Homo sapiens: one gene and its partners. The protein of the gene in region 2 interacts with the protein of the main gene of each other region in a pairwise test. Each region holds a gene or a part of one and is shown on either strand. Other genes may lie near its edges.

Evidence for each region.
Region 1: the proteins of ETS2 (region 2) and PPME1 interact in a two-hybrid assay, tested with the Homo sapiens proteins (one large-scale study listed by BioGRID and IntAct).
Region 3: the proteins of ETS2 (region 2) and NDUFB5 interact in a two-hybrid assay, tested with the Homo sapiens proteins (one large-scale study listed by BioGRID and IntAct).
Region 4: the proteins of ETS2 (region 2) and NDRG1 interact in a two-hybrid assay, tested with the Homo sapiens proteins (one large-scale study listed by BioGRID and IntAct).

Annotation. Positions count from the first base shown.
Region 1 is NC_000011.10:74,247,789-74,251,288, reverse strand, and holds part of PPME1 (protein phosphatase methylesterase 1), read right to left. Parts: intron 1,144-3,500; exon of another isoform or gene 967-1,143; intron 336-966; coding exon 271-335; coding exon of another isoform or gene 31-270; exon of another isoform or gene 1-30. UniProt on the Homo sapiens protein: Demethylates proteins that have been reversibly carboxymethylated. Demethylates PPP2CB (in vitro) and PPP2CA. Binding to PPP2CA displaces the manganese ion and inactivates the enzyme.
Region 2 is NC_000021.9:38,812,429-38,815,928, forward strand, and holds part of ETS2 (protein C-ets-2), read left to right. Parts: intron 1-574; coding exon 575-686; intron 687-1,844; coding exon 1,845-1,964; intron 1,965-2,352; coding exon 2,353-2,553; intron 2,554-3,500. UniProt on the Homo sapiens protein: Transcription factor activating transcription. Binds specifically the DNA GGAA/T core motif (Ets-binding site or EBS) in gene promoters and stimulates transcription.
Region 3 is NC_000003.12:179,614,794-179,618,293, reverse strand, and holds part of NDUFB5 (NADH dehydrogenase [ubiquinone] 1 beta subcomplex subunit 5, mitochondrial isoform 1 precursor), read right to left. Parts: exon of another isoform or gene 3,416-3,500; intron 3,324-3,415; coding exon 3,235-3,323; intron 2,312-3,234; coding exon 2,245-2,311; intron 1,312-2,244; coding exon 1,250-1,311; intron 1-1,249.
Region 4 is NC_000008.11:133,290,753-133,294,252, reverse strand, and holds part of NDRG1 (protein NDRG1), read left to right. Parts: intron 1-3,500. UniProt on the Homo sapiens protein: Stress-responsive protein involved in hormone responses, cell growth, and differentiation. Acts as a tumor suppressor in many cell types. Necessary but not sufficient for p53/TP53-mediated caspase activation and apoptosis.

The DNA.
Region 1 (3,500 bases), on a different chromosome or scaffold from region 2:
GGGGGTATTGGAGAAGTAGAGCTTAAGATCTTAACCACAGGGCCCTGGGATGAAATAGCAGAGTGTCAGTAGCTCCTCAGCACATATACACAAAACCAATACCATAAGCAGCTGCCAGGGAGAAGTTGGAGAGCTGGTGGAACTGCATCTGCATAGGCTCCACAGCAGCTGCTGCAGGCAATGCAGGCTGAGACTCAGAGACTTGTCTTCTGTGACATCCAGGGTTATTCTCACAGTTGTCCTTTTACAGTCACTGAGCACCAGACTCACCTTGTCAGGGGCATCCTCATGGACTGCATGGCCACACTGGGGTAGGACCTGCATCTGGAACTTCCCTGGAGAGGAATCAAAGCAAGGCAACTTCAGCGACTAAAAGAGCCCTCTCTTATGCAGCCTCATAGGTCATTCCAGGAGCCCAGGACCTACCTCCCCATTTCCAACCTCACCTCAATACTCTGGACCCAATTATCAAGTCTTGCTGAGGATGGTAATACAAGTAATTGTAACCTTGCGCCAATCATTTCCCTTCACTTTTTCCTTCTGTCCTATTTAGTGTACATTTACTGTGGGCCAGAGACACATAGAAGAAACAGTTCTTGTCCTCAGGGGATTTACAGTCCAGTAGGGGAGTAAAACACAAAAACCAACATTTTAATGCAGCATGTCATTCCTATGATAAAACTGGCTACATGGGGCTGTAAGAGCATAAGAAAGGGAACTTCACAATCCAAGAGGGAACCAGGAAGGAAGGAAGGCTTGAAATGGCTTGGAATACAAGAAGCTTGGCATGGTGCTTATGAGAGTGGTTAACAATAAGGCTGGAGAGGTAAGCAGGGGCCAAACCATTAAGGATTTTGTAAGCTATGTTAAGGATTCAAAATGTATTATTACAATAATAAGTTACCATCTGAGCACTTAAGCATGTGCCAGGCATTGTACTAAGCACTTTCTCATACTGTCTTACAGAACACTGTAAGCTCGTAACTAATGCGACAATGATTGAGAATGAACAGCGATGACTGATAAAGAAGATCCCTAAGGAGACTAAAGGATATGAGACCCAGAGCCCCCATAAGTAGAGACAGCAGATTTTCTCAGCCTCAGATTCTCTATTTATAAAATAAAGGAATGGGCTTGAAAGTTCTTCTGGTCATTACATCCTGTGGTTCTTACCCCAGTTACGCAGGATTCAAAAGTTTTCAGTGTATTCTTCTATCCATTTTTAAAGTTGATTCTCAAAATCTACCCTATACAATTAAGCACAAAAATACTGAAATTCTTTTCTGAGATGATGAAACTGAGGCCATGATTAGTGAAGTAACCTGCCCAAGGCCACTTCATTAATTAGTGGAGGAATAAGATGATCCCATTTAGTAAAGTCCATCCTGTGCCCCTCCTCCTGCAGTAAGCTGCCTCTCTCTGGGTGCTCAAGCCTAGTCACCTCTCCCTTCTAGCTCCTAAAGTTGTTAATGCACTTGGATCCAAACACAGAGCAGCACATGGCCCTCTTGTAAGTTTCAAGTAAGTTTACATTTTACATGCCACTGGTGCTTGCCTCCCCAGGAGTGTGTCATTTCCATAAGAACAGGGGACAATGGTGTTATTACTTGCTCTATATCCCTAATAAGACCTAACACAGGGTAGGGCACTGAGTAGATGCTTAAGTCTTTAGCGAATGAATGATGAACAAATGACTAGATCCAAAACTTACAACTCCAATCTCCCTGTTCTTTCTGTTAGATCAGCTCTGATGACTAGGGACGCATTTGTCCTTCCTCTTTGGAAGAGTAGGTATAATCAGAGAGAACTCACATACACCAACAACACTGTGCCAGGTACACATAAAATAACATGTTCATGGGTAATCCTCATGATTATTCTATGAGGTGGGAATATTTCCAAACTCTTCTCTCCCATTGCACAGATTAGGAGCCTTAGGTTCAGAGAGCCTAAATTATTTACCCAAGGGGTACTATGAATAGGTGGTAGTTTTCCAGGATTTCATAACTAAGTCAGTTGGTTTGAACACAGTGCTGGCAAAGCTGTGGTTTGGAATCTATGCAGCCTTAGCCATTTCCCTTTGTTCTGTGGAATGTTCCTTATCCTCGCCATTTACTCTCTATACTCATAGGAGGCTTTCTTTAAACCAGAAGGTGGTCTTGATATAATCCATATTGAGGAAACAGGAGGACATCTCATAAGGAATCGTGATTACTTCCTGAATATAATGAAAGGCATCATTTGTTAGACTACCCGCATTTTTTTCATTTAAACTTCATGTAACTGTACTGAGATATATCATTATCTCCATTTCACAGATGAAGAAACTCAAAATTAAATAAGTTAGGAATTCACTCATACCGCAAAACTATTAACAGTGATTCAAACCCAGGATTGTCTGATTCCAAGGCTGGTGATCAACAATGATTTCAAATGCTATCCCAGTCCATGTCAACTGCCTTCAGGCAGTCTCAGGGGCCATATCTGATTCTTCTGTCTGCCCAGCATCATGCATAGGTCTTGCACAGAAAGGGTGCCTAGGAAAGGTTTCTTGAATTGAACTTAAGTGTCTTAGATTCAATTTCATGGCACTCATGTTGGTAATTACGGGCTTAGACATTTATAAGCATCTACTTAAATAAGTGTCTAAGCCCATAATTACCAACATCAGTGCCATGGAAAAAAAATCACACAGTCCCAGCTCATAGTCCTATTCTAGGCCTCAGGATACAATGTAGTTAAAGGAAGGCAAAGCCATGAAGGTCTGGGACCAGAGTTTTATATGTGAGAGCCTTTGAACAACTATTATGAGAGAATATAGCTCCTTTTGCTGTGGAAAGCTTGAGGATAGCTAAAAGAACAGTTTGAGAGGCCCATGAGATATCCAGCAGGTTTGCTACATAGGCTAGGACTGGATCTCAGGAGAGAGGGGTGAGGTGGATGTTTAGCTTTGGGAGTCATCAATATATAAATGGAAGCCATGAAATTGTCCAGGGAGAGTAAGTAGGGAAGAAAGGTCTAGAACAGATTCTGCCTGAGCCTGAAACTTTGGTCTTGGAGTTGGCACCTCTTCTTCCCATAACCCAAAAGTTGTATGCCTACTGGCTTCACCTTCACTGAGTCTTTTACCCGTACTAAAGCAAGAGCCCCCACAAAATTGGACCCGCTGCCTCCACTGTTATCTAGCTAACATACATGCATCTGTATACAGTGCTCAGCATGTCACTTTCCTACTCATTATACCCCACGATCTGTTTGAGGCTGCCATCAGTTTTTTCATTTTCCAGATTAAGAAGACTAAAGCTGAGGCAAGTCAGATAACTTGCCCAGAGTCAAAAAATTACTGGAAAAGCAGTATTCAAAACTCAGTTTTCCGAACTTCAGAGACCTTACTTTTACCATCTTACCATGCTGTCTTCTAAACAGGTATTTATACCTTTTTATATCTGGATTATCTTGAGCCTTTCCCTTTCCTAAAACTTCTAACAATAAGAAAAATA
Region 2 (3,500 bases):
GTGGATTAGGCCACTAAAACAAATTCCCAGTCACTCCGACTCTGTGAGGTTACTTAAATAAATCCACAGTGGCCGGGCACCGTGGCTCACGCCTGTAATCCCAGCACTTTGGGAGGCCAAGGCGGGTGGATTACACGAGGTCAGGAGTTTGAGACCAGCCTGGCCAACATGGTGAAACCCTGTCTGTACTAAAAATGCAAAAATTATCCAGGCGTGGTGGTGGGCGCCTGTAGTCCCAGCTACTCGGGAGGCTGAGGCAGGAGAATCGCTTGAACCCAGGAGGGGGAGGTTGCAGTGAGCCAAGATTGCACCACTGCACTCTGGCCTGTGTGACAGAGTAAGACCTGTCTCAAAATAATAATAATAATAATCCACAGTAAAATACAATCATTTCAGTCACTTTGACCATTTTACGAGTCTGTTTTAAGGACTGACTGGTTGATTCCATGTTTGCTTCAAAATTGCCAGTTTAATCAGGGACTATTGGTAGGATTGCCCACAGACCACTTTTACAACAGGTAATTCAATCAGTTTAAATATTGTATTTCCATTTTTTTTCCATCTGTTTTTGCAGCGCCAGCCAGCCTTTGACACCTTTGATGGGTCCCTGTTTGCTGTTTTTCCTTCTCTAAATGAAGAGCAAACACTGCAAGAAGTGCCAACAGGCTTGGATTCCATTTCTCATGGTAATTGGTTCCTCAGACTTGACAAATTGTGCATGATTTTCCTAAGTAGTTCAGTTAATAAAGAGATGACAGTTCCTAAGTGAGAAATGTTGGTATCTGGAATCTTTGATATGAATAGCCAGAAGTTCTGGACCTGGGAGAAGGCAGTTTTTCATTTGTATCAACTTGGTGATTCTGATGTGGATTCTGATGTCTTGAGTGCCAGACGCCCCCCAGTGAGCCGCTGTTAGGAAACTGCAGGGGAACCCCTGAGCTGCCCCTCCTGGATGTTTTCAACATTGGCAAGCAGGTCCTCATCTCCCTGCTCTGCCCTGGAAAACAGACAGAAGAGTAGACATTAAAACACACCCAAACTTGTAATTTGGGTTTGCATCATTAGTTAAATCATCTCCCCTGCCCTGAGTTTTGGGGCAACAAATTGTTCTTTGTAATCCTTACCCATCGGTAGTTCTTTCTGTAGTTCTTCGTGTCATTGTTTATTCTTCTTAAAGGAATAGCACGTCAGATAATGTTCATACAATTACTGTGACAGAGCTATTAGTTGGAAACATGCCAGAGATGACTGTGTCATGTGAAGTAGGTGCTGAGAATACAGGCCAGAAAATTAATTAAAACGCATACACTGGCGTAAGCATAACCCTGCATGGCAGCCATTTATCATTCTTGAAATTGCTGAGGGTGTCTGGAGAAGATTGTTTTTCAATAAAAATGGAAGGTGTGGTTCCATTACCGTGCTAAGTGCGGCACATTCATATCACACTCACTTCTCAGCTCTACGCCTAGTTTAATGGAAGTGACTTCCAAATGATACAGTCCCTTCAGCCTTTTGACCAGAAACCATGCAACTGTTTTCATTGCCTACAATTTTAAAATAGACTTAGCAGTTTTCCCTACGCACAACTGCTTTGTGACGCTTTGCAAAATAGAATCAAATCTGAGTTTTATTTTAGATTTTTTTAATAAGTATAGTTCTGAGATATATATTTTCTCAATTATAGTCAGAAAAGTTTTTTGTTAATAGTTACACTGTTTTAAGGAATCATGCCAAGGTTTGAGATCAAAATTGTTCTTTTCCAAAAACTAAGATGTCTCTCCTAAATCTCCACCTGATATCACCAACTTGAAGTCCTAATGTCCCCATGGGGGGTTTCCTTCCAGACTCCGCCAACTGTGAATTGCCTTTGTTAACCCCGTGCAGCAAGGCTGTGATGAGTCAAGCCTTAAAAGCTACCTTCAGTGGCTTCAAAAAGGAACAGCGGCGCCTGGGCATTCCAAAGAGTAAGTACTGCTTTCCTGAGCCTGCACTGGGTGAGAAGAACCAACTTCAGTGCAGTTGTTTGATCTTGACTTGTTTATTAAGCTTTTGCTTGGGGTATTCTGCAAAGAGTAGCATGGATGTCGTTAACCTGAGCCAGTTTCTGTTTCACCCCAATCAACCCAAGACTTGATCCAGAACTCATTAAATATGTAGTAGAAGGACGCATTACTGGTGTCTTGAAATGTGCCTGGGTCGTGTCAGAATGGTGACGTGTCATCATGGTATCTTGCTCATTCGTGGGTTCTGGTGTATGTCGGTACTTGGTGCATAAATTAGGGATGACAGTGGTCTCACTACCTTTCCACTGTTTTTACCTCATGTGTTCCATTTTTTCTTCTCTCCTGGTAGACCCCTGGCTGTGGAGTGAGCAACAGGTATGCCAGTGGCTTCTCTGGGCCACCAATGAGTTCAGTCTGGTGAACGTGAATCTGCAGAGGTTCGGCATGAATGGCCAGATGCTGTGTAACCTTGGCAAGGAACGCTTTCTGGAGCTGGCACCTGACTTTGTGGGTGACATTCTCTGGGAACATCTGGAGCAAATGATCAAAGGTACCAGCTGAACGTCTTACTTCTCCTTGTCCAGGATGAGCTGTGGCCGGGAAGACTGATTGGGAAAGTCACGTGGGTGTTCTTCAACCTTAGGGTTGCCACTTGAAATGACATAGAGTACCTTGCCTCAAAATGCCACTCAAGTGAGTCAGATATATGGCAGTGATTATAGATTTTTATCCCACTTTATGTGAGTGTGTGTGTGTGTGTGTGTGTGTGTGTATAGCATCAAGTATAGCCACAAGGTAGTAGCCTTAGTCACTAAATTGTTTGCTATTGCTGGCTGTATTCATCACGGGAGTCCATGTTGACTCAGATATGTAGGACAGCAAGAATTCCCACGTCTTCTGAGCTCACCTTACAGAGCTAAGAGATATGGCAGCCTTAATGAAAGGGGGGAGCCTTTACTCACATAAACCCTGTGAATTCTACTGTAAATTTTCCTACATCCAAATGGAATGTATTTTGGATGTTGAGGATTGTTGAGGGGGCGGGGTCTGTTTTTAAACAAGTGAGAAATTGATATATATTTACACGCTATCATATTGTACAGAAACTGGCCATTGATCAGTAGAAATCTCACCAAATACAGAGAAAGTCTTGATTCAAAACTTAAAATAGCAGGGAGACCAATGTTTAAAACATGTTGAGTTAAAAAAGAAAAGAGGGCCAGGTGCGGTGGCTCACACCTGTAATCCCAGCACTTTGGGAGGCGGAGGCGGGCAGATTACTTGAGGTTAGGAGTTCAAGACCAGCCTAGCCAATATGGTGAAACCCTGTCTCTACTAAAAATACAAAAAATAAAAATATTAGCTGGGCATAGTGGCACATGCCTGTAATCCCAGATACTCGGAAGCCTGAGGCAGGAGAATCCCTTGAGCCCGGGAGGCAGAGGTTGCAGTGAGTCGAGATCACACCACTGCACTCCAGCCTGTGGGAGTGAGACT
Region 3 (3,500 bases), on a different chromosome or scaffold from region 2:
ATATACCTATATATAAAATAATTTTAACAGATGAGGTGGATACTATTTTTGTCCGCATTTTAAAGATAAGTGAATTGCACAAAGTTACGTAGCTAATAAATGGCAGCACCTGGACTCAAACCAGGTCTGTCTGACTCCAAAGCTGTGTACTCTTTTCCATTACACTATGCTGAGTATCTTAGGTGGCAGATTCAGAAGACAAACCCAGGTTTTGGTAATTCAAAAATGGAGCTCTTTGCACCAGTTAGCATAAACAAACTAAGTGTAAGGTCTGCCTTAAGATTTAATGGTTTAAGATTTGTATTTAAAATATAATTCATTCAGATAATAAAACATGATGGGATATACTCCATTCAAGGCTCACAATAACACTTGTTAAAACAAGTAACAAAATTAATTTTGGATTTTGGTAGCAGTGGCAGTATGGTATAATGACCAACAGTTCAGGCTCTGGAGTCAAAGTTGCCCGGGTTGAAATAGTGACCCCATCTAGACAGGTCACTTAACTCTTTTAGCCTCACTTTCTTCATCTACAAAGAGGGAATAATAATAGTACATTTTACATGGGATGAAATAATAAATATTTGTAAAACACTCAGCACAGTACCTGTTACATAGTAGGTGCTCAATAAATGACAGCTAGCATTAACATTGGTGAAGTCTCTCCTAAGGCATTGAACTTAGGATAAATTATGTTACTCTGTTAGGCTGAGAACACACTGCAATCATTCTTTAAAAAATTGTAAAGCTTAAAATGATTTTTTTAAAAATGAAGTACCAAAATTCGTTGTTTATAAAAAGTATGCAAAAAAATGTATCTGCTTGATATAAAAAATGAAATATAAAACTCTATCATGGCTGGTCACAGTGGCTCACACATTTAATCCCAGGACTTTGGGAGGCTGAGGTGGGTGGATCACTTGAGGCCAGGAGTTCCAGAAAAGCCTGGCCAACATGGTGAAATCCTGTCTCTACTAAAAATACAAAAATTAGCCAGGAGTGGCAGCACACACCTGTGATCCCAGCGACGTGGGAGACTGAGGCATGAGAATCGCTTGAATGCGGGAGGCAGAAGTTGCAGTGAGCTGAAATCGCGCCACTGCACTCCAGCCTGGGCAACAGAGCGAGATGCTGTCTCAAAAAAAACAAAACAAAAAACCTGACTATATCATAATTGCTGAATTAAGACATTAACTAGTGCGTTGACAAGGCATGTAACAGTATGTAATTGTCAATGTCCTATACAAACCTTATAATATTCCCAGTGTTCTGGGACATAGCCTTCTGGAATTTCTGCTAGTTCAGCTTGACCTAATAAGAAAAAATGGTTATGTTTAACTTTAGCATGAGGAGTTTATAAAATTAATTATTCACCATTAAAGTAAGAAACCAACTTCTTGTGGTTTTAAAGGATTCTTTAAAAAATTTGTACCAATGAAGATATGTAGTATTTTTAATTCACTTTAATCTGGTTGAAAATCAATTCATTTGTTAGACATTTTTAGACATCTCTCTGTGTAAGGCATTATTTATAGGTATTCCATGAGTTTCTCATTTTGTTTTTCTATACTGTAACAAGATATAATAAAAGACATATTATTCCTTCTGGTCTTCCCTATACCTATGATACAAAACATTTTAGGATTCAAGGTGTTAGAAGTACTTTGAACAAAATTTCCCACGAAAATCTAATGTTTACTGTCATTGACACTTTCAGTCTTTGTAAGAGGATTATAGTTTTTTTTTGGGGGGGGGACAGAGTCTCACTCTGTTGCCCGGGCTGGAGTGCGATGGCGCCATCTCAGCTCACTGCAACCTCCACCTCCTGGGTTCAAGCCATTCTCCTGCCTCAGCCTCCCGAGTAGCTGGGATTACAGGCGCCTGCCACCACGCCCAGCTAGTTTTTTGTATTTTTAGTAGAGACGGGGTTTCACTATGTCAGCCAGGCTGGTCTCGAACCCCTGACCTCATGATCTGCCCGCCTCGGCCTCCCAAAGTGCTGGGATTACAGGCGTGAGCCACTGTGCCTGGCCGAGGATTATAGTTTTATATGTTCTAGGATGGATTAAAAAATTCTTAGTTCAGATTGAGATTTGGTTATTTTAAGATAAACTGCCATGCTTATGCTTAATTATTTAAAGAGCTTTTCATTACAATATCCATAATTTCTTTTTTATATTAATGTACATATGTTTAAAAATTTTTCCAATCTGGTGGTGCTGGCAGGGGATGGAAGTGACTTACCAATGAATACATTCACCAGAGTTATGAAAATTGCTACTGGAATCCCAGTCAATGCAATGTAGAATCTCTAAGATAAAAAAAAAAGTGTTTCTCATGACCATTTCGTAACTCTCCCCACACACAAATCATCCTCATGATATGATTTCCTCATATTTCTTATAAAATAAACTTGCCAAATTGGGCATACAGTACCAAATTATTGATTTCTGTGATTTTACTTTTTGGTAAAGCAATGCCATGAAAGAAAATAATATGTTAAGAACAAAAGTCTAAAAGCATCAGGGTGATTTCTACCACTAAATAGGATTTGAGCTGGTCATAACAAGAAAAGTAAGGGCTCAACCAAGGAGATGAAAAAGGTCATTAAACACAACGGAAGGGCAAGAGAAAGTTTTAAGGTCAGTACTCAAATGATGATTCAGAGCTTTATCTACCGTGGCAGATGGTCCAGACAATCTCCCATTTTCTAAGCCTCTACTTTGTTCGTATAGAGCCTTGAGACAGAAATATAGTCAGCATTCTAAATAAGCAATGTAATTATATTATTGCTAAATTAAGATTGCACTATAGATCCCTGTTACTCTCTGAAATAAATGTTCCTGAACAACATATAAATATAAAATCATATCCCAAAATAATGTAGCTCCTTTATTTAAGCAAGTCTTTCAACAAGTTCTTTGGTAATTTAAAGAATATTTTAGTTATAGGAACACAGATTCTATTTCGAAACGCCATAATCTTCAGAAGAAAGGAATGGTTCAAGTTTTACCTCCATTTAGTGTAAATCCTTTTGTGAAGAAGGAAAGCTTCACTAATTTAAAGAGAAATTCAATAACAAATCAGACTTTACAGTCTCAGTATCTTCTACAGAAAGAAATATAAATTTACAAAATAAAATATTTCATAAAATGAAAGATGTTTTCTAAAGAGGCAAAAATTTTTTCCCTGTTACATGCAAAGACTTTAATTCAACAAAAAATTTAAACTTACCAATAACTTCAAAAAACGCCTGTCATAGAATCTAGAAGGTCTGATGACAAATAGTCTTTTCCCATGGTCTCCACTGTGTCGAACAGGAGCTGGGAATATTGAATTACCCTGTTTTATACAAGGTTCATATGGGTATACTGTTATATTCTGAGTTAAAATCAGATTATAAAAAAATACAAGGATCCTTTTGTAGCTCATAAGCAGGATGACTGGGTTTTCACACTCAGGTGTGAGATGTGCCTCCCTCAAACCTTGTTATGAGGTAG
Region 4 (3,500 bases), on a different chromosome or scaffold from region 2:
CATATGGCTCAGGTGGGAGAGCCAGACTTTGAACCCGGACAGTTGGACTTCAGAGCCTTTGTTTTTTTTCCATGACAACATGTTGGGGCGCCTGAAGAAATCAGGCTCAAATGAAAAGGCAGTCAGGAGCTCCATGCCTCAGTTTGCTTTTCTGTAAAATGAGAGTAACAGACATGATGCCATCAGAATGTGTAAATATTAATCTGTGTAACCTGAGAACAGCACTGAGCATGTGGAAAACAGCGTGTAGGTGTTTGCCGTCAGTAGCACCCGCAGAAGACATTCTCAAGGCATCTTCTTGGCAGGCAGAGTCTGGGACCCTTTGTCCTAAACCTACCCAAGGCTGTGAAAGTGCCTGCAAATGCTTGACCTAGGTATTGCTTTTTGCTAAGCTTATGTAGGTTGCATAATAGTGTCATGAAAATCTTGTCTGAAATGCACATTTCCAGGCCCGGTCTCCTGCGATTCTCTCTCCATCAGGGGATATGCTGTTGTTTCAAAGCTCCTTTGGCTGGGTTGGGAATGGGGTATCCTGCAGGCAGACAGAGTTGAGAACCTCTGCTCTGGAATGACAGGGGAGAGAAGAAGGAAGGTGTAGTCATACATGCCGCTGTACCTTCAGGCCACCCTGTGTCCACAGTGCCAGGGAATTAGTGAGTGCTCAGTAAATAGCTCTTGTTTGCTATAGTGCCTTGGAGGTTCAATGCATCACATCAGCTAACTGAGGTAGAAGACATTCTTTCCACCTCTCAGGTCAGAAAATTGAGGCTCAGGCTGGTGACTCTTCTGTCCAGAGTCCAGTGAGTGGGGTTCTGCCCAAGGTGAGCCTCCTGAGCCCTTTCCACCCTCCAACATTGCGCTTGGAGGCCACCCACACCCTCTGGGCCCACCTTTTGAGAAGGAGCTTGTTTCCTGGATCCACCCCAGGCTGTTGTTCCTGCCTCCCTTGATGGCTGTGTGATGGAAGTACCGCGTGTCCACTTGCTTTTTATCTTTCAACTTGGAGATAGAGGCAGGCTAGATAGCGGTCTTGGCTGAGAACTTAGCCCAGGCAGGTAGGCAGAAGGGCTGGGGACACTGAGGCCCCACAGGAAGGCGGCTGCAGAGGTAGAGGGCCATGAGTAGGTGCCAACCTGGAGCCGTGTTCTCGGGGTGGGGGCCATGTGAAAAGAAACCTGGGCTCCCTCGGGTGGGGCGTAAGCCCCAGCACTACAGAATGGGAATGGATTACACAATCGGGGCCATAAGCAGGTCTCTTTGACCCAGATCTTTGACTTTCCCACCTAACATTGTTTGCAGACCTGCCTATGCCCTACCTGCCTGGGCTCCATCTCTGACCTTTTGAGTCCAGCGGGTTTTCTTGCAACTGAGCTGGTAGAAAGTGAGGCTCCTTAACAGTCTGGGGGCCTTGAGTGCCCTCCCCAGCAGTTTAATCTTTCCTTTCTTTAAATCTGTGGGGAGACTTTCTGCAGCTATACATTTTAAATCTGCATAGAGTTCTGTTTGAAGAGAGGTGGGTGGGGGCCCAGGTCTCCACCTTGTTCTCCTGCCTTCACCCTCTGCCCCACCCCCACGGAACCTAAGAAGATTCCAAGTAACCCTCTTCAAATATGGATGTGAGAGGGCCATTTAAGAGGTGGGTCTATGGCCTCTCTCAGCTGGGAATGCTTACCATCTCTCCTTCCTCCTTTTTAATCATGGAACTCTCCTCCTTTCTCCAGAAAGGCCTCCTTGGCTGTCCTCTGCTGGAGGGGAGGCTGGGTTGGGTCCTTCCTGGGACCTGTCCATGTCTCCCATGAAACCTGAGAGCCTGTCCTTAGTAGGTGTTGTGTTAGTGGTGGTGGAAAGGACATCTCCACTGATTAAGGAAGTAACTTGGACCATCTTGCATAGACAAGATCGGAGGCCCATTCCGGAGGGTGGAAACTGCAAGACCATTCTGGGGAAGGATCCTGTTAGCGTGGCTAGCATCCCATCTCGGGACAAAGGGTTCTGTATGAGGAAGCCATTTCCTCGTCCTCTGCTAACACTGGCTCCGTTTGTGTGATTTCCACAAATTATCTCAGACCATCCAGCGCAGCTCATGCCTGTCTTGCAATTTCACAAAATAATCCTCTAAGGAGACCAGTGTCCTCCTTTGGACTTCCAGTTATTCACCTCGTCCCCTCAGACGGTCGTCTTCTGTCTGCCAAACAAATTACTCGTGCTGCCAAAACTCCACTGAGAATCTCCAGGAAGATCTCGGTTGTATTGCAGAAAAGAGGTGGGCCCTGACGAGATTCCTGACACCTCCCTCTTCCTGCTGTTGTGTTTGGGACACTCTTGCTGACCTCCCTGGTGCTGTGCTCAAGTTGAACACACAGCAGTTCAGTTTCAGCTCCAGCCCCTCTGGACCCACACCCAGGGAGTGAATGCGGCTTTGGCTTGTTTGAGAGGGAGACAGTGGGGTTCACCTTCTTAGTGATCCCTTTTTCATTCCTTGAATATCAAACATCACTGATGCCTCCTGGGTTTCAGGCTCCACTGCAAAGTACAGGGGCCCTCGAGGAGTTCCTACTGTGGTTTTGTTCTCTGACATTTGTACTGTTTCCTTGATTCTGATTGCTCTGATACAGTTCCCTAACCTCTAAACTAGGGAACTTTCTTGAAGGTCCAGTGAATCCACCCATATTGTTTGCTGAGTTGATTAGTTAAGAAAGACAGTTCGTGAAGACTGCCAACTTCCTCACCCTCCCCAGGGCCTTGAGTTTCAGAAGGGCCAGAAAACACCAAGAGAGCCCATGAACTGCTTTGTAGCTTGACTTCAAAATCTCTTTGGGCAAAGAAATGACAAAGGATTGTATCCACAGTAAGGCAGGGCTATCCAGGGCCTATCTCAAGGTGGTTTTCCTTGAGGTTCAGGCAGAAATGGTGCTGTTCTCGGCAATTTTCTGGGGAAGTTGCTACAGCAAACAGCCACAGCACATGTTGATTTTTTCCCTCCTTTTAAAAATCTGTTCTATAAAGAGCACAATGTGCTGGAGAGAACACTGGCTTTCATGTGGCCTTAAAACCAGGCATGTTACAGAGGGTGGAATCTGGGCCAGTTGCTGTTGGTGACAATCGATGCTACCCTTGTCAGCAATTCCCGCCTGCTCTCCCTTTATCTGCTTCACTGAAGGCCTCCAGGGGACTGTTGTCCGCCCTCCCCCGAGGGAATGAGTGCCACACCTGCACCCACAACAAACCAGTGAGTTTTTCACCTTTCCCTCAGTAGGGAGGAATCTAGACATGTGGCCTTTGGAAGTCAAGTGGGCCTTTGTGTTTGTTTTTGAGCCTCAGGTTACCCATTTGTGAACTGGGTATAATACCCAGCCTCTCCCGGGGCAACCTCCTTGAGGAGCAAGTGAAACAGTGTGCTGAGTGAATGCTTTTCCAAAGCATTGAGTTGGCCGTCTTAGGAAGGTACTATGGGGGAGCTGAAAACAGAGAACCTTCTGGGTGTTGTGAAGGGAGAAAAG